Linked DNA regions of Homo sapiens: regions 2, 3, 4, 5 and 6 are each linked to region 1. The links come from fine-mapping of genetic effects on gene expression. A gene starts in region 1. Each other region holds a variant in brackets. All regions are shown on one strand. Distances are between the middles of the regions.

Region 1 (5,075 bases):
TGTGGGACCCAGAGTCACTGCATGGAGGAAAGCCACCTACCGACCAGAAACATGAATTTTTGACTATTAAATGAGCAAGAATAAACGTCTATTGCTTTTGAGCCATTATATATTTGCAGGCCTATTTGTTACACCTGCTAACATTAGCCTAATTGATACAGGTGTTGAGCACATACCAAAGACCTAACTCACATTTGTTTAATGTTAAATGAAACAGAATACCCGCTAAGATAAAACTTGGTAGGAAACAAGATAAGTAAGATAAGGTTCCTTTTATCAATGTGCTGACCAATTAATGGTGGAAATAGACTCATGCGAAACATAATGCCTGCTGCCAAAGTTTGAAACCAAAACATGATGATTTGTTTGGAAAGGAGAAGATGGAAACGGCTTCACAGAGGAGATGACATTTGAGCTGGGCCCCAAAGGTTAAAAAGGACTTCGAGCAAGTCAGATGGGGTTGGAGATTCCAGACCCAGGAGAAAGCAGAGTGTGCATTTGCTCACATTCAACCTTATCATTAAGTCTCTTAAACTTGGTCAACAGAGTGTGAGTTTATGTGCTCTGGCTTTCCTTCCTGGGTCTGGCATCAAACAAACGACCCTTTGTTTTTACAGTACACTCATTAACCCTATTGCTTTTTTTATCGTAAAAAGTTCCACGATGAATGTTCTTAAAAAGTGTGTAAGTAAATATTTAATGAATCATAACTCTTTTCTAATAAAATTACTGAAGACTAAACCTACAGTTCTGTTACTTATAAAAATAGTCGAGGAGCCATACTTTTAGGAAAGAACAGGTTCAACTTAAGTTTTGACAATATCGATTAAGCATGTAATAGTCACTGGCTTACAAAACGGAACATTAAGCCCCCAGATTTACATTAACATTTCTTCCTTAAAGGGAACATCAAATGGTTTAGACTTCAGTCAAGATTCTCTACAGCCCCAGTTCATAGCCAAGTGGCCTCAAAGCCTCAGATAGTTAAACCACTTCCTCCAAAAGTCTGTGAGTCCCTTCATCTGAATACAGGGTACCCATGGAGCAGGGACTGGGGAAGAAGACAGTACATAGGGTGGAAAGTATTGCAGTTGCTTGGGTGGTGAGAAAGGAAGTAGGCGTCCCAAGACTACCTTGAAGCAGGCAAGAGGCAGTCTGCAGTGGTCTTCCAAATGCTAACTCTAGACCGTTTTATCCACGTCCCCAGGTATTTACTTCAATAAAAGGGTAAAACAACATCACTGGGCAGACAGGATTTCATTTCAAAAGACTTCAGTACAGTGCCCTCTTAGACTTGAGAGAAGAAGCCATTCAGGCTGCCTCCCTCTTATCAAATAACAATTTAATTCTGATTCAGAAACAAAATTCTTGTGACCCCCACACCAATCTACTCTACCCCAGCTCTTAGTACTTGTTCCCAAAAGGACAGGGGAAAGAACGAGGGGATGGGGAGGCTACCTTAAAAGTAAAGCAACTCTTAAGACTGCTGGGATAACTGTTCCCTTAAATCTAAGAAACACTGCAGCTGCCAGTCAACACTACCGGTCTCTGAACACAGCAAAATGCCGACACCTGCCACCCGGCATCCGGGGGTTCTTTTATTTTTTGGTAAATGTGGCAGGAAAGACTCAGAGAGATCAACTGCTTCATGGGAAAGAAAGGGAAGCCCCAGGGAAGAGAGACAAGAAGCATCGTGCCTATCCTAGGGTACTTTGTGTGTCTCCTCTCTATGCACTGAAAGGGCTCTTTGTGTCACACTCACACTCACACACCCGGCGAGTCTGTGTGATTTATTGGGGGAAGGAGGGGCAAGAAGGGTGATTTTATTATCCCTCTTCCCAGTGAGTCCCAGCACATCTCTGCTGGGCCCAAGCTCGGTGGCCTCCTTCTGGCCCAGTCCCCTCCGCCTGTGGCCGCAGAGATAACAGAGGGGAGGAGCCCAAACAAAAACAGCCATGGATCTAGGGAAGTAGAGAGGAAATCCAGCGAGGGAGCCGGAAAGGAAGGAGAAAAGAGCTGGAGGGAGCAGAGGGGTGGGGGACAGAGGAAGAGGAGGGAAGGCTCCAGCACAGGGGAAAGGGGAAGGGTGGGTGGGTGGTGGCACAGGAAGAGTGAAGGGGAGGATGGGGGAAGTGCAAGGGAGGTGCCAGAAATAGGCAGGAGGATGGGTTGGAGAAGGCGACCGCCGCCGAGGGAGGAGGCCGAGAGGTGGAGGAGTGGGGCAGGGGTTGGGTGGGGAGGGAAGCAGCACGGGGCATCAATTATTAAGTGATTACATCATCCCTGACATTAAAACAACACACACAGCCCCAGTCCCCGCGGGGGGCCCCAAAAGGAGGGCGGGGGCGGAGTCTGGGCCAGCCTCGCCCCCAAGCCAATTCCCATTTTCACCCGGCGCCCGCTTGCGGGCGAGGAAATGGGGTCCCCATCCCCGCGCTGCCTCGGGGCCGCACCCCGCAGGGGTGTCCTCCGGTGCAACCGCGGGAAGACCCCAAGCACCGACTCCCCGGCAGCCCCGCGGAGCGCCCTGGCGGCCAAGGGACCGCAGCACCGGGCCCTGCGGCGGGGGCGGCGTGCGCGGGGGCGCCGGCGGCCGGGCTTCTCCGCAGCATCCCCGAGGCCTCCCGCGACGCATCCCCGCCGCCTGCTTACCTGCGCGGCGCTGAGGCTCCGGAGCCCACTCACATGGTCCTCTCCCCGCCCTCCTCCGGCGCGGCCGAGGCGGCTCCGGGGGGTCCCCGGCGGGCCCGGGAGCCGGTGGGCCTTCCGAGAGCACCGAGGGGGCGGCGCCGGGGTGTCCCCGGCCCGGCGGCCGAATCCCTCCCTGGCGCGGGCGGCGGCCGCCGGGCGGTGCGGCGCGGGCGGCGGCTTTGTGTGCGCCCGGGCGGTCCTCGGTGCGCTGGGAGAAGCGCGGCGCGCCCGGGCGGGAGAGGACGCGCCGCTCGCACAACAACCTCGCCTCTACTCTCGCCGCCGGGCGGCGGGCGGGTCTCGAAGGCCTTCGGCTCGCGGCGACCCCTCCTCCTCGCCCGCGGCAGCCCCCTCCTCGCCGGCTCCGCTCCTGACAGATGGCGCAACTGCAACGACGCGCCGCCGCCACCAGCGCGGCTGCTCGCTGCTACTCTTGCTGATGCTCTGCCCCTCCAGCTCCGGAGGGGAGCGAGGAGGGGGCGGGGCGCGCCTCGAGAGTGACAGGCCCGGCTGCCCTATCAAAGAGCCCCTTGGGAGCTGCGAGCCGCAACCATTGGCGCCTGGGGCGTGGGCGGGACGGCAGTAGGTGGGGCCGCCGAGTGGGTTGAGCGTTACTGTGGCAGCGGGCATCCCAGGGTGCGTGCGGTGCAGGGTGTGCAAGAAAATGCGAGGTTGGAGGAGGAGGTCTGTGTGTTTTTAAGGATTGTGTGGAGTTGTGAGGTGGCGGAGTAGGGCGGGAGAAAGAGCGGAGAGTGTGAACTGCAGTTTCCGCTTTGCGGAAGGTTGCAGCTGCTGCTGCAGATTGGCACCTGCCATTCCCCCAAAACCATGGGAAACTGCCTCGAGACAGGGCTATCTTGCCTTTCTGGTGTCTTTTCATTTGAGGGTGAGAGGATGAAATGGAAAATTGGGCGGTGATAGCAGCGTTTTCTTTGATCAAACTGAAAAGAGTACGGAGCAAAGTAGAATCCTGTCCTGAAACGTGGAAACGCACAACAAATAACAATGAGGAGGAGAAGGAGATTAGGATCATTTTATCAGTCCCCTATTTCTGCGGACACTCATTTATATTTTTTTTCTAGCAAAAGTCTGGAGGAAGTATTACTGAAATAGGGGGAGGGGCCAAGCGGCGACTAAGGAACCTGAAATGACAGAGATTTGTTCGTACATTCCCCGCCCCACCCCCAAAAAACCTCGTTTAATTGTAGTCATTGGTTGTCTTTGGTTTCTCATAACATTCAAACTTCTCATGTTTTTTTCCCCTTCACTGAATCTGAGCTTTTGCTCATATTTCCCTTGATGAAATAATTGCCGGTTTAGTATACAGTTGGGAGTGCATCGGTCTTTATTTCCTATCCAGCTTTTCTATGGCAGGATGTAACTTCATAAAAAGAAACACTTTGGCTTCCTGATTTTCTTTATAGGTAATTCCTGTTTACTGAAAGTTCTGCTTTAAGGCATACTCAGAATCGCTCTCCTTAATGATTTTGGCAAGAACCCTACCTTCCCCCTCAGCAAATCTAATGTTCTAAGAAATTATAAGTGAATCAGCTTCTGCTTCTGTGCTCAAAATCTATAATATTGCCTTTCCGGCCCACTACTTGTTTTTACTGTAGTTTAAAAAAATCTGTCCCTTTTGCTGACTTTTTTCTTTTTGTACACACTACTTTTTAAGAAAAGTTGCTAACATTTATTAAATGATCTGCATCCTATGGAGGAGGAAACTGAGGAAAAGAAAAGTTAAGTAACTAACTCAAGGTGACAGTATACAGAGGTTACTGGATTTTTTTCCTTTTCCTTAAACAAAATGACAAATTAAACCATGTTTAAATTGTGTCTGGAAATTCCATAATCCCAAGAAATGGAACCATAGCTAGGACTAGGATATTTCCATACAAGAGAAAGCCAGCTTCATTTAGCCAAGAATTGCTTATCTCAAGAGCAGAGGCTCTTCGTCCTCAGGGCTAGTCCGCAATGGCTGCTCTGGGTTTATTTGGATTGGGATGCAGAGGCAGTTGGGTAGAGCAATGGTTCTCAAACTTTGACATGTATCAGAAATAACTGAAGGGGCTTGCTTAAACATGAATTGCTGTGTTTAACCACCTGAGGTTCTGATTTAGGGGGTTTGGGATGGTGCCCAAGAATTTGCACATTTAGCAAGTTCCCAGGTGATGTTGATACAGCCAATCTGGAGACAGCACCTTGAGGACCATAGTTCTAGAATTGGGCTGTCCGAGGAGGTAGCCACTAGCCACATGACTGTTAAGTACTTGAAATGTACTTCAGTATTGGAAATTTGGCTACTGCAAATTAGGATGTGCTGTAAATGTAAAAGATGTATTAGATATTTCAGATCAAGCATGAAAAATGGAATGTAAAGTATC
Region 2 (5,075 bases), 68 kb after region 1:
TAGATCATTGTACTTCACCTCCTCCTCTGTGCTTGGCTAATGCAACCCCAACCTTCTGTTTCTGTTAGATACTCCGTCGTCTGGGAAGATTTCCGTAATTTCCAAAAACTGTAGGGTACTATCAGAGAGCACTTATCACTCATGTTGTAATTCTATTTACTTGTGTTGTGTGTATTTTTTGAGGGCAGAAATCATTGTGGAGATAATTGTCTTTGTGGCTCAATATCCTAGCTCAGTGTGTAGCACATAGTTGCTGCCCTATTTATTTGCTGCATAGTTGAATAAACACTAAGCTCCAACCCTACTTTCTTTTTGGCAAATTAATGTCTTGTTTCTCCAGCTTATTTTCCAGCTTACCTTAGAATGATCACCTCATCACGCTCAGTCTTGTTTCCTGTAGGGTTCAGTTTAGCATCTTATTCTATATAATCTTATTCTCAAATTTCTGGGTTCATCTTGTTATTATTCTGAGTCCAAATGTAGGTAGACCAGGAATTCAACCCCTATTATGTTAGTTGTCTATTGCTATGTAATAAATTACCCCAAAATTTAGCAGCTTAAAACAACAATGAATGTTATCTCACACTGTTTCTATAGAGCAGGAATCCAGGAGCAGTTTAGCTGGGCTGGGTGGTTCTGGTTCAGGATCTCTCAGGAGGTTGCAGTCAGCATGTTGGCCAGGATTGCAGTCATCTGAAGGCTCGACTGGAGCTGGAAGAATCTGCTCCTAAGACGGTGCACTCACCTGGCTGTTGGCTAGAGGCCTCAGTTCCTTGCTGACAGCTGGCAGGAGGCCTCAGATTTCTACCACATGGAATTCTCCATAGGGTGTTGCAGGCGGCCTCACAACATGCAGCTGGATTCCCCCAGAGTGATCCAGAGAAAGAGTACGAGGGAAGCCACAGTGCCTTTTGTCTTCAAAGTCTCACACCATCAATTTAGCTTCTTTTGTTTGTTTAAAAATGAGTCACTGTTCTAAGTGCTTTGCTTGTATTACCTCATTTGATCCCCAAAAGAATCTGAGAGATCATCTCATATTCAGATGGTGAAACATTTCCCAAAGCTAGATTTATCTAAGGTCTCTCAAAAAAGGCATAGAACCAAAATTCTAATGTGTTTTTGGATTCATTACCCTTTTCACTATGAGTGAATGACATGCCTCAGAGAGTAGGTTATGAACTAGGAGAATTTGAGCACATAGTGTGTGTCTATTTATATGCACATAAATATAAATGTATGACAACTGTAATAGATGAAAATCATAGGCCATATACTTCTTAACATCTGTAAAAACACAGAAAAAAAAGGTAATAGGAAATTTCTTTTCAAGTCTACTTGGGAACTTGCTCAAATCCAATAGAAATTACCTTTATCTTTTCCATTTTATTTAGGCAACTGTGCCATCCACCTTATGTTTAAGTTTGAGGGCTTCTTTGCCCTTCCATTGAAACATTTATTTTATTAAACACATATAGTGTTTAATTTATTTTATTAAAACATCTATTTTATTAAAACATTTATTTTATTAAACACATATAGTACTATTCTGCTTTCATTAAGTTTATTAGCTTCTTATTAAATACTTTAATCCTCATAACAGTCCTAGGAGAAGGCACCAGTTCTTATTTTATTGATGAGGAGCAAAAAAGTTAAGTAACCTGCTAAGATTACATGGCTAGTGAGGGCAGAGTCAGGATTTGAACCCAGGCAGTCTGGCTTCTGTGCCCACTTCTTCACCTCCTCACCATGTCACCTCTCCCATCTGTGCAGGTCAAGAAGTCAAAGTCTGCAGCTCTGCAAGTGTATTGGATTTCTGGATAAAATAAGCCTGACATATTATTGACTTTCTTAGTGGAGAAAACCCTTCTCTCCCTTTACATTGGTGAATTCTTGTACTCTGCAATTAACGTGTGTGCCAGTTCTCAGTAAGCACTCAGCATTGCAGAATGAAGTGTGTTGTTCCAGGCAGAAGGCCCATCAGAGTCCTGGGCTTCCCATGGATGCAGGCTCTCTGATGTAGACGTTCATCCCTTTGCTCAGCCTCTGTCCCAGGCAGCCAGCCAGTGTCTTACACTTCTTCTCAGTAGTAATTATGAGGTAGCATCCTTAGAGGAAGTGGTGGAAGTCACTTTCAAT[G/A]GTGGTAATGGTCATCTTCCTCTTTCCTTTTCATCTCCTTGCTGCTCCTCATCTATTTGGCATTAAAAATAGTATTTACATTTAAAGAGGAGATATTATGACATTTGTGTCTATCTCTGCTTATTGGCTGCCTCAGCAAGAGGGGGACTGACCTTCCCGAGGTGCATACCAAGGTTAACATTCCTAGAGCTTCAGGCATTTTGGTCATTTAATGGACACTCTTCCCATTCATCAGGTCAACAGGATTCCTGTTAACATTAAACGTACCTCAGGTGGGGGAAAGAATGCTTCTGAGTAGATGACAGAAGGAAATCTCCCCTAATTCTTGTTAGACTAATAAATATTCCTTTTTCATACAGTGTTGAAACTTGGAGATCCTTAGAGATGACCAGAATGAGGCTCTCATGTGAAGGGTAAGGAAACTGGTGTTCAAAGAGGTTGAAGGACTTGGTCAAAGAACATAAACGGTGGTCCTCCAGATTCACTGTCTACCCTCCACTCTGCTCTCAGCCCAGGAAACTGATCCATCAAGGCTGTATCAATAGACACCCTCACTCCCTGGCTTGCCCAAAGGGAGCTCTGGCAGGAGATGAGAACAAAGAGCAGGATGAGGTTAGTTTTTTATTTCCTTGGCTCTCTCCCTGCAATGTTGCCTTGAATTGACTGTATCCCTCCACCAAAGGCACAGTTTCTTCTGAGGGGCCCACTAGACAGACTTTCCTCCTGGGTTCCAGTAACTGCTCCCTCCCCCATCCCTTTGGGTCTAGAGCTGGTGACTGCTTCACTGTTACTCACCCTGGATTTTTGCATGATCCCTTGTGATTCCCCTGTCCTTAGAGAAATCATGTAACTTATTATCCAAGCTGGGGCACCCTTGAGAATAAAGGTAGGGTTATTAATTATTACACCAGGATAATAGGTAGAAACCACCCTGTCCTGTGCAACTGGGACTGATGGTCACCCTACCCACACCCACTCACATCTTTGTAAACAGTCCCCTTGTAAATAAACTCTCCTGGAATTCGTCTGATTTGGGTGTGCCATTGATTCCCTGTTGAACCTTGATGAAAGCACAGCTCTAAAATCTACCTCTTATCGTTTTCAAACCCATTCTTTTTCCATCATTTGATTTAGAAACTAGTAGTCATTTGCATAACTACTAGTATAAAATGAAACAATATTGTTATTGACATGTGGTATTTTCCAAAGTGTGACACAAAACATAATTTTAGGTTATATGCTGATCAATATCTATTATGTTAAGTTATATGTCATTAGGGTGTGTTAGAAAAAAATAGAATGGCACACAACACCCATGATTTCATGTATGGTACATCTTTGCTTAGGACAAAGGCAAAGCAGAAATTAATTTTATTAAGTAAGTTGATTTGAAGAAAGATATTGAGTCTACAGTAAAGTAGATTGTATTGAAATGGTTTTAAAGTACTCACAGTGTCTGGGAAGCACACTACTAGAGTTACTTAACCCTGGGATACTATGCTTAGAGGTCACAGTGGTTCTTCTTTCTAGTGTGCCAGCCTCCCCTGTGATCTCATTATTAGTCTTTTTTTAAAAAAAATATTTTTATTGTAGCAAAATATACATAATATAAAATTTACCTTTTTAACTATTTTCAAGTGTACAATTCAGTAGCATTAGGCACTTTCACATTGTTGTGCAACCATCACCACTATCCATTTCCAGGACTTGATTTCATCACCCCAAATGGAAATAACTAAGCAGTTACTGCCCATCGCCTCCTCCCCTACATCTGGGTAATCACCACTCTACTTTGTCTCTCTATCAATTTGACTCCTGTAAGTACCTCATATTGTACCTCATTTAAGTGTAATCATGCCTTATTTGTACTTTTGTAATTGGTTTATTTCACCTAGCGTAATATGTTCAAGGTTCATCCATGTTCTAGCATGTATCACAATTTTACTCCTCTTTAAGGCTGAATAATATTCCATTGTATGGATATACCACACCTTGTTTATCCATTCTTCTGTTGATGGACATTTGGCTTGTTTCCACCTTTTGGCTATTGTGAACAATGCTGCTATGAATGTGGGTGTACAAATATATGTTCAAGTCCCTGCATCCAATTCTTTTCATATATATCCAGAAGTGGAATTGCTGGATCCCATGGTAATTCCATGTGCAATTTTTTTTGAGGAACCATCATCCTGTTTTCTACAGCAGCTGCATCATTTTACCTTTTATTAGCCTTTGCGAGTTGAGATTGGTTATGTGGTGGCTACTGAAGAGTGTAGCTAGGACTGTGCAAACCCATCACTAAGGGAAGGTAATTGAAAATACAGTCACTGACAGTGGGTCAGAAGCGTCTCTCCTAACAAGGGGTAGTACATTCCAGAGTAAAAAAGACACTTGCATGAGGGTGTATGTGTGTGTGTGTTTTTATTGTTACCCGGGCTTAGGCAATATTTTGAGATATTATATCTGCTTGTGATTTACTTTCTCATTTCCTTATATACAACATGTTACTTTCATCTTCTCCCAAGAGTTCCTTTGAACTACATGTATTTTCTGTATTTTTGTTCTCATTTCATCATTTTCACACACACCCAAATTTCTCAAACATAATTTTCACTTCCGTTTCTTAAGCCAAATGCCTTGCTTGCAAATACTCTGCTGTTTATCCACCAACTTAAACTCCTGAGGGCAGGCAGGGCTTCTGCCTCTTTAGGACTGGGACTGATCTGCCTTGTTCCAGTGCTCAGCACAGCCTGGGCACATACAGTATGGATGTACACAAAAGAATCAGTCTTTGATTTCTTGCATGAATGGCTGACACAAAGTAGGACCACAAAATAGGTCTGTTAAATAAAAGAACAGCTCACCCAATACCTTTAGCTCAATAAATGGAGAGATGATCAGATGCTACTGATAGCTGTGTAATTTTGAGGAAAGTACCC
Region 3 (5,075 bases), 190 kb before region 1:
TGGGCTGGCTTGTTCTTTCTTCCTACCACAAGTATTTCTGGAGTATTCCCCAGTGCCTGGCACTGCACTCGGTGCCAGGAGGACGAAAGGGAACACAGTCTCTGGCAGTCATGGAGCTGGAAGCTTAGTTTGAGGGAGATAAAATAAATGAATGGCTATTATATATGTCAACTACAATAAAGTGCTATGAAGAATAATAAGATGGGGTACAAGGACAGATTTTGTGGGACTCTGTAACCTGTACTAGGATTTTGGATTCCATCCTAAGCGCAACAGAAAGTCACTGGGCTGTGAGCAGAAGTGCGATGACTTCCCACGTCGTTCTTTCCCCTTGTCTTTTAAAACATGGAAGATAACACATCATTACCTTGAGAATGACTTATGATGAGACAGAATGGGAAAAGTGTTTTGACTTTTCAAAACTCTTCAAAAGCATCGTGACATTTCAAGGCCCATGGGTGTCTATCAGCAATTAGCAATTGGGTAGATGATGCTTCCATTGTCACTTCTGTCATGTTTACTTAACGAGTGGCTCTGGGTACATTTGTACTATTTTAGCACACTTCTCACATGTGAATAATACCAATAATTTCGGTAACAAAGCAGTAAAACTTAGCATATTCCAACCCGCAAAGCTCAAACATTTCTATGAGAAATGCATGAATTATTTTTCTGAGTTTATTCTTCCCCATGTCCTTCCTTTCTTTCCAAGCATTTTGTGTGTCTCCCCTGTGGGCTCTTCTTCTTGCTTGGGCTTACTCAAGCAAGTTTCCTGCCTCTCCTGAGTAGCTAGGATGCTAGATGTGCACCACCATGCCTGGCTAATGTTTAATTTAATTTAATTTTTTTTTTTTTTTGAGACAGTCTCACTCTGTTGCCCAGGCTGGAGTGCAGTGGTGCAATCTTGACTTACTGCAACCTCCACCTCATGGGTACAAGCAATTCTCCTGTCTCAGCCTCCTGAGTAGCTGGGACTATTGGTGCACGCCACCATGCCTGGCTAATTTTTGTATTTTTAGTAGAGGCGGTGTTTCACCATATTGGTCAGGCTGCTCTTGAACTCCTGACCTCAGGTGATCCACCCACCTCGGCCTCCCAAAGTGCTGCAATTACAGGCATGAGCCACTGCACCTAGTTTAATTTTATGTTTTGTAGAGATGGGATCTTGCTATGTTGCCCAGGCTAGTCTCGAATTCCTGGGCTCAAGTGGTCCTCCTGCCTTGGTCTCCCAAAGTGCTGGGACTACAGATGTGAGCCACCGTGCCTGACCTAACTTGGTTCTTGCTACCCCAAACACAGTTAATCTAGTTCAGTTTGCTTTACTATAACCTGTGTCCTGCACTTAGCATGCTCACACTTGTTTCTTTTACATTGGCTTTGGAAATGCTCTCTTTCTCTTCACCTGCTTAGCTACAGCCTCCTCAGCTCCAGTCCCACCTCCTTCATGAAGCCATCTGTGATTACTCCAGCCTTCACTAATCTCTCCAATGCACCTAGCGCCAGTGCTAGAAACAACAGTTTAATGCTTGATAATAGCAGCTACCACAATAGCTAAACATACACTGAGCGCTTGCTAAGAGTCAGGCATGCAAAGCACTGGGCACATGAGGTGGATGCCAGCAATAGTCTTGTTCTACAGATGAGAAAACGGAACACCGAGAGGAAAGCAATGTGCCAAACAAAGGACAAGTGTAGATGACAGAACTGGGATTTGAACCGAAGGTGCCAGAGCCTGACTGCATAAACACTATACACTGTTCCACTGTGTCCATGTCTCCTCTGTGTCCTTTTACTAGTTCTTTCATAAGTTATTTAAAAAATCTCCTTAAATAGAATGCAAATCCTTTGAGGTTGGAGACACATATTTCTTCATAGCAACTTGCCTAAGGCTGGTTAAACAGCAATAAATGCTCTAACTAGCTAAAGGGTCCAGCCAGGCAGTAAGTTATCTGACACCCTGACGGTCAAAGTAATTCTCTTCCTTTACACAGACTTAATCAAACTAAACGCAAAGAGTGTCAATACAGTGGTGTAATAAACTAATAATTTTCTTCACTCTTAAAAGTTATAGGAATAAAATCTTCCTTTCATACGACAGCACAGCCTGACTGATGCTCTCGGTTTTTCAGTGCCAACAGGATGACTGCCCAAAGTCATCATGTCAGGATGGCCCATCCCAAGCCCCAGGCCACATTCCAGTTAATGAAGTCCCTCTATCCCTAGTGGCCAGGTAATCTGTTTTTCACTTCTGCCTCAAATAGAAATAGCTTACTTGACTCAGTTACTTCCTGTTCTTTATGTGTTTTCATACATTAAGATGATGGCATGGGCATTTCAAATGCTCCAATGAAGAC[T/C]GCAGATACTTTTGCTGCCAAATCACCTCCTGCAGTAAGAGTACATAAGCCGGCCAGGAAACGAGGAGTGGATGCTCTTCAGTGACAATGCAAAGTGGTCCGATTGTGGGCTGAGCTGGGATTGAGTGGTCACTTGTGGAAGGACCACTATGATCATTTAGGAAAGGAGCTTCCGAGTCAGGTATCCCTGTGCTTGCACACTGGATTTGCTGGTTGATCATTTAAAACATCCCTAAGTCTCAGTTTCCTTGTCTGTAAACTGGGGATGATAACCTCCTAAGGTTGTGGTGGGAAGAACAGTTGATGTAAAAGGCTCAGCACAGCGTCTGGTACCTGGTAATAGCTGAATAAATACCAGCTGTTATTTTATTCAGATAGTAAAGGCCTAAAGTCCCTGAGTTGCACTGGCAAATGCCATCAGCAATGCCAAAGCTCTCCAAACATCAGAAGAGGAAAAGAAGATGAAAAAACCCTCCTAATCAAAACACTCATCAACCAATCACTGAGAATCTTCTGAGGGTCCATGATGTCCCCAGCACCCTGTGAGGCGCTCCTGGGAAAACCAAGCACAGGTTGCCTCCGCCCTTGGGGTTTCTAGGCAGCCAGGGAGACAGACTTCACGGGCAAACCCAACAGAGAACTAAATGGTGGCACTGCCTTTAGGAAGAAGAGGGCTCAGCAGAGACAGGAAAAGAGAACATAAGCAGGAGATGAGGGCTTCAGGGAGAGGCAGCCGCATTGGAATGATGCAGCATGACCCATGGCTCTCCTTGCGGTGGGGAGGGTCACGGCAGGGGCCAGGACAGGCCTGGGTGGGCCCAGCTCACATCTCCGGAGAGCTGAACTGCCAAGTCTCTCTCTTTTTTATTTTTCTTGGTGACCAGGCCAATTCCATAGTCTCAGAGAATATCCCCTCTGGCTAAAAAACTAGGCCAAGGTGGAGAAGGTGAAGTCAGTATTGAATAAAAGAAGCCAAATCCTTCCTACAGAGAATCTGAGCTGTGCCCTAATAGCATTTTCAAGGAGGAAACCCATTAACTTCAACAATAGACACTGTTTTTCTGAACCAAAGAGCCACCCAGAGCCCTTTTTAATTATAAAGCCACTAACTCTGCAAATTATTATATCCAATATTTAATAGTATGCAATAATTCAACTTGAAAGTTACTCTGGGTAATAAAACAAAAAAAAAAAATCACAAACAATGCCAATAACAGAAATTTGGTTTACAGGAGGGGGAGGTGACAAGGCGGTACCAGGACAGGATATCCTGTGAAAGAAGCAAAATCAAAGCTGACCTGACCTGGAACTTTGTGGTTATTTAAACAAAACAATGATTTCAAACCCAATGAAACTTGGCAAAGCAAAACTCAGAATTTTCACACTAGGCCAAAGGAATGACTTTCAGATTTCCCAAATGCTTCTGAAGTAATACAACTGGGTGTTTTCCAGTTATCCCCGGTGACGCACTCTGTTGAAACTTCTACTTCAAGTTCATAAAGTTTTAGCATCATGTTTTTTTGAAAAGTATATGTTACAATGGGTTAAGATTATATTCCATCTGAAATTTCATAATGTTGAGCAAGAAGTTTGAGAAGGAGGGAGGTTGGGAGGAAGGAGGAATGCTGTCCCACCGGGGATGTGAGTGGAGAAGGGACAAGTTAGGCCAAGGAGGACAAGAACCAAGGAGTGGAAGGTGGGCCCGAACATATTGCAAAGATAAGGTTGATTAAGTAGGCACAGATCCAAAGTCTGGTTGAGTGGAATCCATGGAAGGAATATTCAGGCTGAGAGGGGTGAGGAAAGTTCCAAGAGAGCCCAGAGTTCAAGACTGGACAGAGAAGAGACAGAAGGTCCATCAGTGGGTATTAAAAATTGAACCCAGGACAACTAGAGGACACAGGGGAGTAGGCTCAGCTACCAGGGAGAATGCAGGGGCAAGGCTGGACTCTAGGTATTAATCCTGGGGTTTTGCAGTCGGGGAAGGATAGGCAGGATAAATTGTGGAAGGGCATTCGATCCAGACATGGAGGCTACCAGAAGGTAAACTGTGACATTCCTTCCAAATATCCCTAGAGGAGCCAGGAAGTGAAGGGAGGAAACTCTGGGCTGCTTGCCTTTCTCCATCACCCTCCTTGCAACGGTGACCAATGACAAACCCAGGGTAACTTATGGGGGCAACACAAAAGTAGAGGATAACATTAATGGGCATCTCCTGAAACTGTGGGTATTTAGTCCTTTTAAGAAGGAAATCTGAGAACCATCGAAGGGACTTTCCTTGGAGTACAGACTGTGTTATGGAGGCTTATTTAAGTGGTTATCTTGGGTGGGACTGAAGAAAAAAGGAGCCCTGCTTGCTGTTCTAGAATACTGAGGCTCTGAATAATTCCAATTATCCTTCCAGTTTCCGAAGAGCCAGAAAGGAAGTAATATCAGAATAAAAATTCTGTAACTTGATTACCTCTGTAAAGAGAAAACAAAACAAAACAAAACAAACAGAATAAAAATTCTGATTCACAGCTTCAACAGCATAAACGCTATGTTTGCGGACTTTCAATCCAGAACAAAAGACAAGAGCTTTGTAACCAACTGCACACTGCTGCCCAGGGTGGTGAGAGGAACTCACCTGAGTGATCAACGGATGTGTGGGATGTAGCTCAACACAGAAATGATGCCAAGAATCCAGCCACCCCCAGAAGGGGCAGAGGGCCCGTGTCAGTC
Region 4 (5,075 bases), 220 kb after region 1:
TATATCCATGACTAAAAGGTGAAATCAGTGTCTCAATACTCTGATTTCAAGAATGACACAAAAATATGTAGGAAGTAGTGCTGATTGAATTCTTGTGTCCCAGTTATTGGCTTTATACATGTTAGATTGTTTTTAATTCCTCACGACAACTCTGTAAGGTAGGAATTAATACCATTTTACAGACAAACTTTTAGTGATTTGCTTAAAATCTCAGAGCTAACATTGTGTCAAAATTCAAACCTGGCTGGGCACAGTGGGCTCATGCCTGTAACCTTAGCACTTTGGGAGGGTGAGGTGGGTGGATCACTTGAGCCCAGGAATTTGAGACTAGCCTGAGCAGCATGGTAAAACCCTCTATCTACAAAAAAATACAAAATTAGCTGGGCATAGTGGTGTGCACCTGTAGTCCCAGCTACTTGAGATGCTGAGGCAGGAGGATTGCTTGATTCCAGGAGGTCGAGGCTGCATGCAGTCAGCCATGATCATGCCACTGCACTCCAGCCTGGATGACAGAGCAAGACCCTGTCTCAAAAAAAAAAAAAAAAAAAAAAAAACCAAAAAAAAAAAAAAAGAAAAAAAAAAACCTCTAACCTAATTCTGATGCTAAAACCCATCATTCTCCCCACTGCTACCACCTCTCAAACATGTAAACTATTACATTTTTTGCCATCCTAAGGACCAAATGTTTAGGTCCTAATGATACCTTAGCTCACAATGGCCAGCAATTATTTGTTTGTGTGACTGTGACACCGTCAGTTATTTTTCCAAGCTGAAATGGTGATCAACTTATTCACAGATAGTACCCTAGTAAGAAAAAGAAGGTGGAGGTAAGATTGTATCCAACATCAAGTTAATTCTTATGTAAAATGCCAGTTTTCTATAACTTGAGTCATATGAAAACACAACAGTGGTAAAAATGCTCACTAACATTTAATAGTTTAGTCATCGGATATGAAAATTGAAAAACTGCTTAGCTGAAGAGTTATGTTCTGGTATAAGGGTTAAACTAAACATTACTGAGTAGAGGAGAAGTTCATGAGGTGGGCTATTGATCTAGAAGCCAAGAATGAGTTGGGAGAGGGAGAGCAGTTAGAGAAATGAGCAGAGAAGCAGCCCAGGGCTCAGGGAACAGAATAATGAGGACAGTACAAGATGTATTCTTCCTTTCGGCCGGGCGCGGTGGCTCACGCCTGTAATCCCAGCACTTTGGGAGGCCGAGGCGGGCGGATCACGAGGTCAGGAGATCGAGACCATCCTGGCTAACACGGTGAAACCCCATCTCTACTAAAAATAGAAAAAATTAGCCGGGTGTGGTGGCGGGTGCCTGTAGTCCCAGCTACTTGGGAGGCTGAGGCAGGAGAGTGGTGTGAACAGGTGAGGCAGAGCTTGCAGTGAGCCAAGATAGCACCACTGCACTCCAGCCTGGGTGACAGAGCGAGACTCTGTCTCAACAACAACAACAAAAAAGATGTATTCTTCCTTTCACAATTGTAATTATTCCAGCCATTTGGGAATTTGAAGACTCTCTTGAGGAAACAGGAAAAAAAAATAAAGTTAGTCCAGGCATTAGAGAGAGGGTGTAAAGAATCCCATGTAAGAGTTATAGAGAAATTTGTAAAGGTACAATTTGGGTTTGAGGATATTGGAGTGAGATGAGGATGTAGACAGATGGGATTTATTTGGGATGTTATAAGAGAAGGTCTGGGAGAGAAAGGGAATGAGGAAAACAGGATATAAAATGAGAAGAATCTCAATTCTGATTTACTACAGGTGGATTAGACTGTAGGTCCCCACTCATGGATGAAAATACTAATATTGTAGGGAAATAAGCCAGTAAAAACAAGAATGAAACTCTCCAAAAAGCTTTAGAGAAAATTTTTAGCTAAGCCTCAGCTTGTTGTTGGAGCTATGCATTGAGATGTTTGATTCTTTAGCAGGTAGGAAACTATGTGAAAGAATCTCCTGATGTCATAATTTCCGGGTGTCACCGGAACATTTGATCATCATTCCTTTGGCAATTCCAGCCTTCTGTGGAAAGGCCAGTAGAAAGCATTGATTTATTCACCTCTACAGGAATCAGACTCAGCCTCTTTTGGTAAGTCTATTTATCCTTGATCAAATTAGCTAAATGTTAATACCTGCATAGATAGGTAGTTATACTAAACCACAGAGTTTATTATGGTTTCACTAAATCATCATTGAGCGAAACACTTTTTTCTTGATATTGAGACAGTCTATAAAAGTTATCATATTCAAATTTTTAAACCTTAATTTAGTTTTATTATTAACACCAATAAACATTCACTTTTAGGCATAGAATACTGTACTAGGCATAAGAAATAGTTGCACCATTTTAAATTTTTCCTACCCTTTGTGTACTAATAGTTGAATACATTGTATACTAATAGTTGAATACATTGTGTACTAATAGCTGAAAACATTGTGTACTAATAGCTGAAAACATTGTGTACTAATAGTTGAAAACATTGTGTACTAATAGTTGAAAACATTGTGTACTAATAGTTGAATACATTGTGTACTAATAGTTGAAAA[CAG/C]TGTGTACTAATAGTTGAAAACATTGTGTACTAATAGTTGAATACATTGTGTACTAATAGTTGAAAACATTGTGTACTAATAGTTGAATACATTGTGTACTAATAGTTGAATACATGCAAGTTATTTCAGGGTAGAGCTATTAAATGTCCACTGTGTGACAAGCACTGTTCTAGGTATTAAGTATTCAGGGATGACAAAGACAGACTTGGAATGAGGGGGGATATTAAACATTTACAAAAAATGAGGGTAGTGTTTCTCAACAGTGGGCAGTTTTGCCTCTCTCTCCCACCAGGGGACATTTGACAATGTCTATAGACATTTTGGGCTGTCACAATTTTGGGAGAGGGGTACTCTTTGCATCCAGTGGGTAAAGGCCTTGAATGCTGCGAAACATCCTACAGTGCACAGGACAGTATCCTCCCTCCCCAGCTAAGAACTATCTGATCCCAGCTGTGAATAGTGTCATGGTTGAGAAACCCTGAATTAGAAGGATAACTGTTACGAAGGAGAAATAAAGGTTGCTATGAAAACTTAGATAATGGGGGTTATAAAAGTAAGTTATAGAGTAAGTAAAATGTAAATTCAGACTTAATGGATTGCATTGGCCATAGCAAGTGAAGGGTGGGAGCAGGGGGTAGGGAAGTGTTCCAAGGTAGGCAGTAAGGAGTTCATTTATATGTGTTTGTGTGTGTATTTCATAATAAATTTCATATCTCAGGTATACTTGCAGACATTTATATATACTTACTAATGCTCAGTAGTACCTGCTAAATAATAATAGTTAACATTTACTGAGCACTTACTGTGTGTTAGGCACTGCACTTTACGTGTATTACCTTACTTAATCCTCACTATTATCCTAGAAGTAGAAAATATTATCACCAATGTACCCTTGAGAAATATAGATAAGTACCTTGACTGAAGATCACATAGTTGGGAAGGGCCAGAGCCAGGGACTATACTGTGACTATAGAGAAGCAGTGGGGAAATGAATAATCCCCTGGAACTGAAGGATTAGCTAAAGATATCTTGGTGAATGTGAAACTGTGCTCCAAAGGAAGAGAAGGGCATAGATAGGTAGAGAGGTGCTTGTTGATTGCAACAACCATTTAAAGGCATACAGAATTTTGTTTTCACACGGCAGAAATGGTCTTCAGTTATGTTAACCATAGAGTATTTTCCTTGCGTTGCTTGGTGGCTATTTTGTATTTTTTGCAAGACTTAAATTGTACATAAGGGATAGTTGTGAAATACAGTATTTTAAACACTATTTTTAGCTATTTAAAAATAGAATAACATTCAGAATGTTTCTGTATGTCTATAACAAAATAGTAATATTAAAAATTCCAAGGGCAGGCACGTTGTGTGCACCTGTAGTTCCAGTTACTCAGGAGGCTGAGGCAGGAGGATCACTTAAGCCCAGGGTTTCAAAATTGTAGTGCACTATGATTGCACTGGTGAATAACCATTGCACTCCAGCCTGGCCAACATAGTGAGACTCTGACTCTTTAAAACATTCCATGCAAGTCTTTGAAGACAATCTATCTCCACCCCCAATATTTTAATTTTCTAATCTAGGTTTTCAATATTTTAACTTTCCGATCTAGGTTTTCAGTGAAGTATGCCTTTTCAATTTGGAACCCAGCCAAGGAGGTTTCCAGTGGAAGGAGGAGATTCTTCAATTGAGCTGGAACCTGGGCTGAGCTCCAGTGCTGCCTGTAATGGGAAGGAGATGTCACCAACCAGGTAAAGTCTTCTGTCCTCACAAGTGAGGAGATATGTATTGGCTATCATCAATACAACCTTCAGCTGATATTCATTATTAGCAAGAAAAAACTCTCAGCAATTCAAAAACATTGTTGTTTCTAAGTTAGCGTATTAACAGAGCCCAGTTTTCCTTAGTGTAGAGTCTGTATTTTGTATTTCTGTAAGTCTTGATGATAGAGCAATTCATTCTCTGTCTTTCTGGTACATTTTTAGCTATTAACAACAACAACAAAAACACAATTACCTTTGCACCAACCTAATAGATTGTTTTGTTGATAGCTTCACGATTAGATAACATTCAATTAAACAAACAAAACTTCAGTGCTAGTATGCACAGGGCACTGTGCTAGGCATAAGGCTAAAAATATGAAAAAGACTTAGACCTCAGAGTTAATGTCACTTTGGCTTTGATTAGTATCACTTTGGCTTTGCTGCGACCTTTGGCAGAAAGAGTGATATAGAATCTGAAGATTCTGTGAGACAAAGTGTTTTTGCAGAATGATTAGTTCCATTTCTCTGATGTTTACCATAGCAAAACCTTAAATACTACATTGTTAGATTCTCATGGCTTGGAAATTTTGGGAACACAGATTTAAGTTTAACAGGTGTAGGTATTTAAAAATCGGAGTTAGTCAAGGATAAAATGGGCTGCTTTGGGAAGTAGTGAGCTCCCGATCTTTAGAAATGCTAAAGGCTGAATGACTATTTGGTGGGAATGTTGGAAAGGAAATTCATATATTCGATGTATTTTT
Region 5 (5,075 bases), 180 kb before region 1:
GCAGTGCGCCTTTGATTAGAGATACAGCATGCCATCTGGCCCAGCACCGGGGGTGTATGTGTGTGTGTAACGCACGGGTATGCTTGCTGTGTGGGCATTTGGCTCCAGGACAAGAACTGCCACGTGTTGGGGAAATTCAAATAGCTGAGCTGTCTGACCGACATGTAATTCAGCATTTGGACAGTATCGGTAGCAGCCAGGGTCTTAGTTTAACATTTTTCCTCATCACTTGAGGCTGCTAAGAATGCTTCCATTCTCAGATCAAATGAAGGGAGAGGATAATTGGCATGAAATGAAAGAATCAAGAGGAGGAGGAACAGGGGCAAGAGAAGGAGAAGGAAAAAGAGAAAGAAAAGGACTCCAGAGCTGGCCATTATGAAATGCAGTAGAAAGCATCACCCTGTAATACATTCCAGTCACTGCTCCGCTTTGCTTGGGATGACTAGGCTTTGGTTAGAAACACCAACAATGAAAGTTCCCCCTTGCCCCAGCTATAAACATTATATTCTACATGAGGAGCCTATACTCGATTGCAAACCACATACTTAATCACACACTTTTACCTGGTGACCACTTTGTCAGTATCTGGGAAGAAGGAAAATATTCCTAAAAACTCCTTTCTAGTATCTGGTGCTCTAATAGCACCTGAAAAGCTGCCCCACTGGAATGGCTGCTGAGTTGGGATATATTTTACTTAAAGGCTAATTTCTATAAATTTTTGCAGAGGGTGGGATGGCGGGGATGATGAAAGGAGGTAGAGATTTTCGAGTAACTATGCTGTTACCATCTGTAGTGTAAGTCCACTCTCCACTCTCCCTCTCCCTGCTCTGGACCCATAAGGATTCATCGCTGAGCTCCTGTGACCTCTACTTCTGGTTGGGTCTGGCAGAAGACCCAGAAGTGGGCTAGAGTGGGGTTGGGTGTGAATCCCCAGATCCATCCCTGACGTCTCTCTTTACTGAGGAGGCCCTCTCTGTGCAGTGGCCCATTCTGACTTCTTGTGCCCACTTCTCTGCCCCCTTACCTTTGAGGCCTTAGTTCTGTTGCTGTTACAAGCTCTGAGACACTGCACCATGCCCTGTTGGCTTTCTGAAACCCTGCCTGTGCCTTTGTAAAAAACACAGGCATGTGAGAATGTGAGAATAAATGTGGTCTCTTTCTCCAAAAACAGAGTATTCTAGGCCTGGACGCTGTGAGGAGACCAGCATGAGCCAAGAGGACCACAGCAGCAAATACCAATACCCACCCACCCACCAAAAACCAATATCTCATCCCTCCACTGGGCCCACAACAGTCTCCCACCTGCAGAGCTGTCAAATTCCTGCCAGATCAAGGTGTCCAAACCAAGCTGAAGAATGACATTTCAAGTATTTTCTGAAGGAAGGGAAGGGAAGGAGGAAGGAAGGGCTGTGCAGTAAGTGACTGTTCTCACAGCTGTGATCACGAGCCATTGTCATTCAAGTGCCCACCTTGTCTTGCTGTGTACTCATTGTCTTCTATCAATCGGGCCAATCCGAAGTCAGCAATCTTGCATATGAGTCCATTCCCCACTAGAATGTTTGCTGATCGCAGATCTCTATGGATATAATTCATGCGCTCGATGTAAGCCATTCCTGCAGCCACCTGTGGAAACCCAGGGAACAGGACATGTTACACCACGACCCAATGTACTTAGACACGTCATTAAATCTATGGCACATCAAGTTACCCTGCAGGGCCTACCTGTGCTGCCATGTCCACAAGATTTGGTAATTTCAGAGCTCTTCCTTCTCCATCTTTTAAGAAATCCAGTAAACTTCCTATGAACAAAACATAAAATCATTTCAATTTACTTTGAAAGATAATTCCCAACAGAGAGCTGTATTTGGTTTTCTTATTAAAAGTAATAAGGTAGTCAAATGGAATAATGCCATCCACATGGGGGGACAAAAAGGTTTATATAAAAAAGCAGGGTAGAAAAAAGTATAGGCATGGAGAAGTAA[C/T]AGTTACCTTTTAAAAACAAACAGCATTAATTCCATTTCTAGGAATAACAACATATATTTGATAAAACTAGAAGAAATGGGACTCAATCTCCCTGTATGTCATAAAGAGGAACCTATGAAGAACTGCACCTCTTCAATCCCATTCCCCAATCACCCCTGCACAAAGAATTGATGTGGGGAAAATACAGCCCAGCTGAGTGGTCCAAAACTGTGGTCCTGGGACCAGCAGCTACAATAACACAAGGGAACTTGTTAGATATGCAAATTCTCAGGTCCCATCCCAGATCGAGTAAATCAGAAACTTTGAAGGTTGGGTCCAGAAACTTGGGTTTTAAGAAGGCCTACAGGTGATTCTAATAATACAAGGTAAAGTTTGAGACTCACTAGCTTAGCTTATTTACAGATTTTGAATCAAGAAAAGACAATCTGAAGAATATGGGTGGGGCAGATGGTTCCCCTTAATTAGATCACAGCCAGCCAAGCCTTAAATCAGACATCTGAAATGAAACATTGGAAGCTTCAGAGCCACTATTATAACACAGCCTAAGAAGGCTTAGAACTAACACCAAAGCAGGGATAATCATTTGCAGAAGCTGGAGGCTTATGATGGTCATCAGTGATATTTTATGCTTTAATCACAAAGTTATTTACAAAATAACCCTGGATACAAAGGACAAACCGTTTGCCAGAAAAAAAAATTCCCATTAAATTTTAAAAGAAAGTACATGGAAAAGAAAAATTACACTGGTATCCTCTGATAAACAATGTATTGCCTTTTAAGGCTGTTTCTTGTTTGGTTCATCTATTTTTCCAAAACAAAATGATCTCTGGCCTTATCCCTAACAATGCTGGTTTGATTAGGAAGACAGAGGGGTTGTAGGGGAGAGAATGTGAGAATAAATGTGGTCTCTGAAAGCATGTAATTTCATCGCCTGACGTTTAAGAAGAGAGCTGGAAATAAAAAAGATGTTGAAATGATGGAGACTAAACTTAGCTTAGAGACCAGTGTCTGATATTAATTGTTTAGCCCTGCAAAAAGGAAATGTAACAAAAGCTACTACATTCAAAATAACAGCAAACTATCATAACCCTCCGTACCACCCTGATATTAAAAATGAATGTTTTAATTATGGAGAGGAGCTTGAATTTCTGACACACATAACATGTAAAAAGTATTTGGCATTTCATAAGGATTTGGGGTGGGGTAAACGCAAGGTTAGTCTGTTTTAAAAAATGTTTTCATTAACGAGCACATAACTGGTGGTTCCTAATGGGAATACTTGACCCAGGCAGAAACTAGAAAAGTAGCAAGTAGGAAACTTCCATTTCTCTCCCCTAAACAACCCCTTAAGGCACTGTGAGCTGGAGACAGGAGAGGTGTTGCCCAACCTTTGTTCATATACTCGGTGACGATGTAGATGGGCTCCTCAGACACCACTGCATAGAGCTGGACCAGCTTGTCGTGCTTCAGCTTCTTCATGATCTGCGCTTCCTCAAGGAATGATTCGGGGGACATTGTGCCTGGTTTAAGAGTCTTTATGGCTACTTTTGTGTTTCCATTCCAGGTACCTACAAACATCCCAGAATATGAAGTCAAACCAAAGATCTTCTTTTGATGGAAAAAGGTTTTGACCACCAGCTATTTGCATAAGATTAGATTTTAAATTTAAAACACTTAATACAGTTTTTGTTGAACAAAGACATTCAATTGCAAGGACTCTGTCAAGTATTTTAACAGAAAAAATGAGTTTATTTGTGGTTATGGCTAAGATGGCTATATTAAGATTTATAACTCATTAAAATTTTTTTAAATTTTGATATATTACCACTCTCTCTTTTTTTGGCTCAGTCATATGATTACACATTTATACCAAAAGCTCTGCACCATACAGTGATGAAAGTCCAGGGGTTGGAACAGGCCTGGCCATCTAATAGCTGTCCCTTAGGGAGTACAGTGTGCATGGAAGAAATTAGATTATTTAAGTTTATGGGGTGTGCCATTTAAAAATATGGCACCACATGAGGATGTCTGGAAATTACCTCTAGACTTTCAATGTCTGCAATGGACAAGTTACTTGACTGAGTCCTTGCACAGGTGTGCCAAGCATGCTGATAAGCACTGGCAAGGAGCTCACAGTCTGCTTGCCAATACTTCAACAAGGTAAGGCAAATTTCCTCAGCTTTACTGATGGCTAGCCACAAGAACAATGGCTTCTGTCAGGTAGGTAGACAGGGGAAATTAAACAGCAGCTGAGAGGGAACAGAAATATTTAAATTTAGCATGTTAAAAAAAAATCTAGCAAATCTGAAGGCAAGGCCTGGATTATGATTGTCCTCAGTTACCTCATCTGTAAAATATAGGAATGGAACTGGATTATCTTTTGGGTCTCTTTCAGCCCCAGCATTCAAAAAACAAAACCATACCTAGGTTCTTTGTGTATTCCATTATTAGACCTATGATGCTTAAGAATAACTTTATAAAGGGGAAGAAATCTGCTAATTTAGATTATTTTCTATTTGAAAAAGAAGACTGGTTTAAATTAAGATTTTTATATTTAATATAACTGACTTTGGAATTTAAGGATTCTGTAAATTGGAGTTCTTATTATCCTGTTAAAGACATGGTTCATACAATTACAACATGCAACCTACAAAATATAAATTATGAAAAAACAAGTGGCTTAAAGAAAAGTTCATTTAAACTTCATAAAATATCTGCCCACTAAGCATTCATGGGAAATTTGACAATTTATAAGTGATCTTTGCTATTTAAGAGTCAGCACCCAAAATTCTAAATACATTAAGATCTTCCTCTGTAATACAAACTTCGTCAATTACACAGACATCCATCCCAATTCTGATGGGCATGTTGTCTTGTGTTTATTGGAAAACAAAATGTGAACAGTATATGTAATGATTTAAAGTTGATATTTGTAAAATTTGAAAATAAATTTTCTAATAGGGTCCAATTCTCTGTGATTGTGTGAGTAATTTGACTAAAATCCTCTATTATTAGAGGGTGAATGAGGAAGAAGGAGGTCATATATTTTACGATACTTGAGATTAAGTCCAGAGAGAGATGGACACAATAAT
Region 6 (5,075 bases), 160 kb before region 1:
TCTGGCTCCTCAGATATCAAACGATGACGTCGATGCATACCTCAGACAGTAGTGGAAGAATGCATGAGAATGTTTGTAACTTAGCTCATGGCTGGTACATCAGGAGCCTTCAATGAATGGTAGCTGTTTATTATTTTTTAAAAACTTCCTGTGGCTACAGGAGGAGGACTCCTGGGGGGCAGGTAACACTCTTCTTGACCTGGCTGGTGGCCACACAGGCATGTTCAGCTTGTGAAAATTCAGCAAACTGTATACTTTTTGAAAATTGTGGTAAAATATAGGCAACATAAAATTTATCATTTTAATCATTTTTAAGTGTACAGTTGAGCGGCAGTAAGTACGTTCACACTGTTGTGCAACATCACTGTGTACACTTTTGATACGTGCACTTTTCTGCATGTGTTCCAACAAAAAGTTAAAAAAACACCACCCCACACCTTTGTTAATGATGACAATCCTAATATATGTTTGAAAACCCTGTGGCTATGTAGACTGTGCCTTCTGATGTCTCGAAGAGAGTCGTTGGCCCTTTATGGCAGTATTCAGTTCTTGCTGTTGAAAGGCGGCATATTCTCACTGCATGGTTCTGTGAGCCAGGGGGCATTCAAGAAAAGGGTGGGCTTTCCAAGGAGGCAGTTTTCAGGCCTGAAGGAGGTCCCTGTGGCAATCAGCACTCCTCTTTCCTGGGATGTGCAGTGTGACCAGGGCTGCCTCTTACTCCCTCTGGCATATCCTTCTGGGAAAGCTGAGGAGCCTGGCTCCAAGTCCTTCTGCCAACATGGAATCTGATTTGCTCAGAGAGCAGAGGAGAAGCAACCAGACTTGGTGGCATAGAAGAACTTCCTGGTGTGCCCCTCAGCCCCTGGGTGGCATTCTTTCCCAACCACCGGGAGCACTCATAGGGACGCTGGAGATGCCTGGCTTGCTGATGTGGAACCCCACCCCCCCACACTTTCTTCAGAACCTAGATTTTTTTCTGAAGGGCCTCATCCACATACACTGCCTCAATCTAATAGAGGCAGTATTTATAAACCCTAAGAAAATCTGACCCGTGTTTACTCTTCTTATGGAGGTACTGAATGTAGGATTTGAAAAGTGAGTGATCCTCACTCTTGAAATCTCCCCACTGCTTGTTTAACTGTTGTTCCTCCTGGCCAACATTAAACAACCATGCAGCATATTCATTCAAGAGTGGGTAAAATCACTTCTTCTAGCTCCAAAAGATTCCAGTCACTCCCAAATTTTTGTTATAGGGAAACGCCTCCACAGGCTTCACCAAAGAAATGTTTAGCAGTTTATAAAATAAAGAACTTGTTGCAAGCCTCAAGTGAGGGCTTAGCTAGTGTAACATCTGAAATGTGAAGAAAATCTCAAGGCAGAGAGCACGAAACGTGGGTAGCCAAGGCTTGTGCCAATCACTTGAAACTGTAGGTTTGTAGAAACACTCAGGGCTGTGGAGAGCGATGCTGGTGATTTTACAACCTTTAAACCTAAACCAAAACCAATAAACATGGACTGTGCTAGTATTTTTGGTACTCTCCAAAAATCTCCTTGGACACACAGTGCCATAAAATACTGCACTGTGTCACTGACTCTTCTTTTTCTCAAAGTATATTGTTGTAAACCAGTGAATTTAGCAAATGTTCTTTTAGCATTTCAGACATCTGAAGAGATGCAGACCAGAAATGCAAGACCCCTTCCCAACCTGAAAGGTATACATGCTTCTCCTCCCTCTCCAAACTTACGAGCTGTTCAATATTTGAAATTTTTCTCCTTTGTGAAAACTCAGGTCATCTTCTGTCCGTGCTTCATAGTCATAAAGGGCCACAAAGAGTGTCACTCCTGCCGAAACGAAATTCACAAGAAGGGAGATTATTACACAAGGGGAAATTAATTCCAAGAAATTAAATCTTCACTAAAATCTCATTCTCACAATCTACATCTAGCCAGCACTAATAACATGATGAAGTGTTGTAATTAACGTGTCAAAACCACAGTCACAGGGCTGTGTTTATGCCTTGGTCTTTGTAGGGGAAGCCTTACTGTATCTGAAAGAAACCTAGACCTGAAGGGCTTCTTTCTGTAATAGCTTTTAATGAGGGCTGAGGAGCAGGGAAATATTAAAATTGCATCCCAAACAAAAGGGCAGCGTCAGCGTCAGGGTTCAGGTTTGCAGGGCTCTGCAGCAGTTACTGACATCCTTTGCTGGTCGTATCTTCTCCTCCACTTGGAGCCTATGTTAGTTTCTGGGTAAAATGCACCACCCTTTCTCCTGGTAAAACAGTAACATAGAACGTAATAGGAAATGCCTCCTGCAGCTTGGGGAAATTTAGAGAAGACCGTTTCTGTAATATTCACCCCAATTAGAGGATGTACTGCCCTTGGCATCTGCAGTTCATTTTGCAGTTTTGTGCTGCTCGCCCCACTGCTGAAAATGGAACCCTCTCCCTTGTCCTCCCCCTACCTTGAACTCACCTCTCCTCACACTGTCTTGTAGCACTCACTCTTCCTCACACCCACCCTATGTCCTCTCATCTGGCTCTCTAGAGAGGCCCTTCCTGGTTTACAGAAGTTTGCTAGCAGCAGCAGAGAATATCCAGTGTCATTTGGCCTAGGATTTCCTCCATATAATTAGGCATAATTCTTTTTTTTTTTTCAAATAGAGACGGGGGTCTCACTATGTTGCCCAGGCTGGTCTCGAATTCCTGGGTGCAAGTGATCCCCCTGGCTTGGCCTCCCAAAGTGCTGGGATTATAGGTGTGACCTAC[T/C]GTGCCCAACCCAACAGGCATAATTCTAGCATAGTCCCCAGTGACTCCTGCCTCCTAGTATTCAGTCTCGTGCAAGCCCCTCCCCTTGAGTGTGGGCTGGATCTAACGACTTGCTTCTACTCAACAGAATGTGCAGTCCCTTAAGTGACTAGGCTTCAAAAGATGGTGACTTCCGTCTTTCTAGCAGACTCTCTCTATTGCCACTTCAGCTTGTGTACTTTGATGAAGCAAGGCGCCATGCTGGTGAGGCCCATGTGACCAAGAACTGAGGGTGGCCTCTGGCCAACAGCCAGCGAGGCACCGAATCCTGCCAGCACTACATGAGTTTGGAAGCAGATCATTCTCAGCTAAACTGTGAGATGACTATAGCCCAGCCAACGTACCTTGATTACAGCCTGTGAGAGATTCTGAAGGACCGAACTGACCATTCGCAGATTCCTGACCCACAGAAACTGTAAATTTAGGTTTTATAATTTTAATTGATGTATGGACACACATAAACAAAAAAGCATGAAGGAAGATTTGGATCCAAGCGGTGCCACACTTTATGTCATCACTACAAGTGTTCAAGTGTAAAGAAAACCAGTTTTGAAACTATGAAATTCCTGATTCATAAATACACAGTTATTTCTATTTTAGTACATATAAGATAATACACTGTTATTAAAGCTCTTTTATTAAGGCAATTGCATATGTCTTAAAAGCAATGGTAAATTAAGTTGCCTTCCAAAACTGTGTACTTGTCTGGTCAGCTGTGTATGATCAGTTATCTACCTCAGAGTCTATTTTCTTTTGTGCTGGGACAGGTTGCTGGCCCTCCCTGTTTCCACAGCCCAAATCCTCCTAGCTCAGAAGCTAGGGCTAAGCAGTTATTTCTTTTGAGTATTTTTTAGTTCTTACATTTTATGCTTGTATTTGATGATAAATGTCAGTGACATTTCATAGTTTCCAAAGTCCTGGCTGCTCTGAGAAGTGTAGATTCTAGTGAAAATTACATAGTCATAAGATAAATTTGTTTTTGTTTTATTTTTTAAAAGTCACGGTATCACTGGTTCTATGCTCCCTGGAATATTACTGCTTTGTGAAAGCCCAGGCTGAACGCAGCACCCTCTGTGTACCTAGTACAGTTATAAACCTGGGTCTCCCACTAGTTGATACTTCTGCATTAGTTAAGGCAGAAATTTGATAGTTTGGTTAGAGGGGAGGGGAAATCTGTTGCCAGAAATGTCTAACTAAGTGCCATACTCGTCTGGGTAAGATTTGGGAAACATAACCTCTGTATATTAAAAAAAAAATTAGTTAAACATCATATAGTAGATAGCCATTAAATTATAAAAAAAATTATGAAGAAAGATCTTTTGTACCCGATTGAAAAAAAGAGATATAGAGATATCTATATGATCAAGAGAGTTAATTTTTTTTTTTTTTTTTTGAGATGGAGTTTCACTCTTGTCGCCCAGGCTGGAGTGCAGTGGCATAATCTCAGCTCACTGCAACCTCCGCCTCCCGGGTTCAAGTGATTCTCCTGCCTCAGCCTCCCGAGTAGCTGAGATTACAGGTGCCTGCCACCATGCCCAGCTAATTTTTTGTATTTTTAGTAGAGACGGGGTTTCACCATGTTGGGCAGGCTGGTCTTGAACTCCTGACATCGTGATCTGCCTGCCTCAGCCTCCCAAAGTGCTGGGATTACAGGTGTAAGCCACTGCGCCTGGCCGAGATTTAATTTTTTATTTTTGTTTTACTAGTGCCACAGACTTGCCAGTGGTAACTTATTTACCCCATTCAAGATAACTCTGTAGTTTTCTTTCCTAGGACTTGTTGTTAAACGTCAAAAGACATTTTTGAGCTGTATGTTTGATCAGACTGTTAGCTTTTCTGTTTTATTTCTTTTAAGAACCTCTGAATAAAAAACATCTGAAATTGAAAAAAAAAAGAAATTAAATGTGTTTTGTTTTAAGCTGCTAAGTTTTGTGGCAATTTGTTATACAGCAGTTGATAACTAATAGTAGTTCCCTGCAGTCTGCCTTTTCATTCTGGTCTCTCTGCACTTCAGAGTGCCTGCTATGACCTACAGAAATGACAGGGAGCCCACTTTTTTTTTTTTCTTTTGAGATGGAGATTCACTCTTGTTGCCCAAGCTGGAGTGCAATGGCGTGATCTCGGCTCACTGCAGCCTCCGCCTCCCGGGTTTAAGCACTTCTCCTGCCTCAGCCTCCCGAGTAGCTGGGATTACAGGCGCCCACCACCACGCCTGGCTAATTTTTTGTATTTTTTAGTAGAGACGGGGTTTCGCCATGTTGGCCAGGA

The links. PIP is the estimated chance that this variant, and not a neighbour inherited with it, causes the effect. A credible set is the group of variants that fine-mapping cannot tell apart.
Region 2: its variant is the best candidate, but not a certain one, in a credible set for the expression of FYN in whole blood (TOPMed, PIP 0.85).
Region 3: its variant is the best candidate, but not a certain one, in a credible set for the expression of FYN in whole blood (INTERVAL, PIP 0.77).
Region 4: its variant is the best candidate, but not a certain one, in a credible set for the expression of FYN in fibroblasts (GTEx, PIP 0.51).
Region 5: its variant is the best candidate, but not a certain one, in a credible set for the expression of FYN in whole blood (TOPMed, PIP 0.87).
Region 6: its variant is the best candidate, but not a certain one, in a credible set for the expression of FYN in whole blood (TOPMed, PIP 0.81).

The regions. Positions count from the first base shown.
Region 1 is chr6:111,870,316-111,875,390 of GRCh38, forward strand. FYN (FYN proto-oncogene, Src family tyrosine kinase) reads right to left here and starts at 3,137. Exons shown (of 14, transcript NM_002037.5): 1 at 2,653-3,137. It overlaps LOC102724646 (a long non-coding RNA gene), which reads left to right and starts at 3,137. Exons shown (of 3, transcript NR_168402.1): 1 at 3,137-3,375. RefSeq lists silencers at 2,257-2,656, 2,807-3,056, 3,177-3,266 and an enhancer at 2,709-3,208.
Region 2 is chr6:111,938,046-111,943,120 of GRCh38, forward strand. No RefSeq gene overlaps it. Among named protein-coding and RNA genes, the nearest start is that of LINC02527, 31 kb to the left of the region's middle. The variant G/A (reference allele first, on the strand shown) is at 2,137.
Region 3 is chr6:111,680,191-111,685,265 of GRCh38, forward strand. The region is part of intron 12 of FYN (FYN proto-oncogene, Src family tyrosine kinase); the gene reads right to left. Among named protein-coding and RNA genes, the nearest start is that of TRAF3IP2, 77 kb to the left of the region's middle. RefSeq lists an enhancer at 2,580-3,081. The variant T/C (reference allele first, on the strand shown) is at 2,355.
Region 4 is chr6:112,095,107-112,100,181 of GRCh38, forward strand. FAM229B (family with sequence similarity 229 member B) reads left to right here. Exons shown (of 4, transcript NM_001033564.3): 2 at 1,935-2,095; 3 at 4,164-4,302. The coding sequence starts at 4,178. Among named protein-coding and RNA genes, the nearest start is that of FAM229B, 10 kb to the left of the region's middle. The variant CAG/C (reference allele first, on the strand shown) is at 2,554.
Region 5 is chr6:111,692,906-111,697,980 of GRCh38, forward strand. FYN (FYN proto-oncogene, Src family tyrosine kinase) reads right to left here. Exons shown (of 14, transcript NM_002037.5): 10 at 3,372-3,551; 11 at 1,723-1,799; 12 at 1,470-1,623. LOC105377945 (a long non-coding RNA gene) reads left to right here. Exons shown (of 3, transcript XR_001743812.2): 3 at 1,172-1,470. Among named protein-coding and RNA genes, the nearest start is that of TRAF3IP2, 90 kb to the left of the region's middle. The variant C/T (reference allele first, on the strand shown) is at 1,983.
Region 6 is chr6:111,712,602-111,717,676 of GRCh38, forward strand. It overlaps FYN (FYN proto-oncogene, Src family tyrosine kinase), which reads right to left. Exons shown (of 14, transcript NM_002037.5): 5 at 1,746-1,842. Among named protein-coding and RNA genes, the nearest start is that of TRAF3IP2, 110 kb to the left of the region's middle. The variant T/C (reference allele first, on the strand shown) is at 2,769.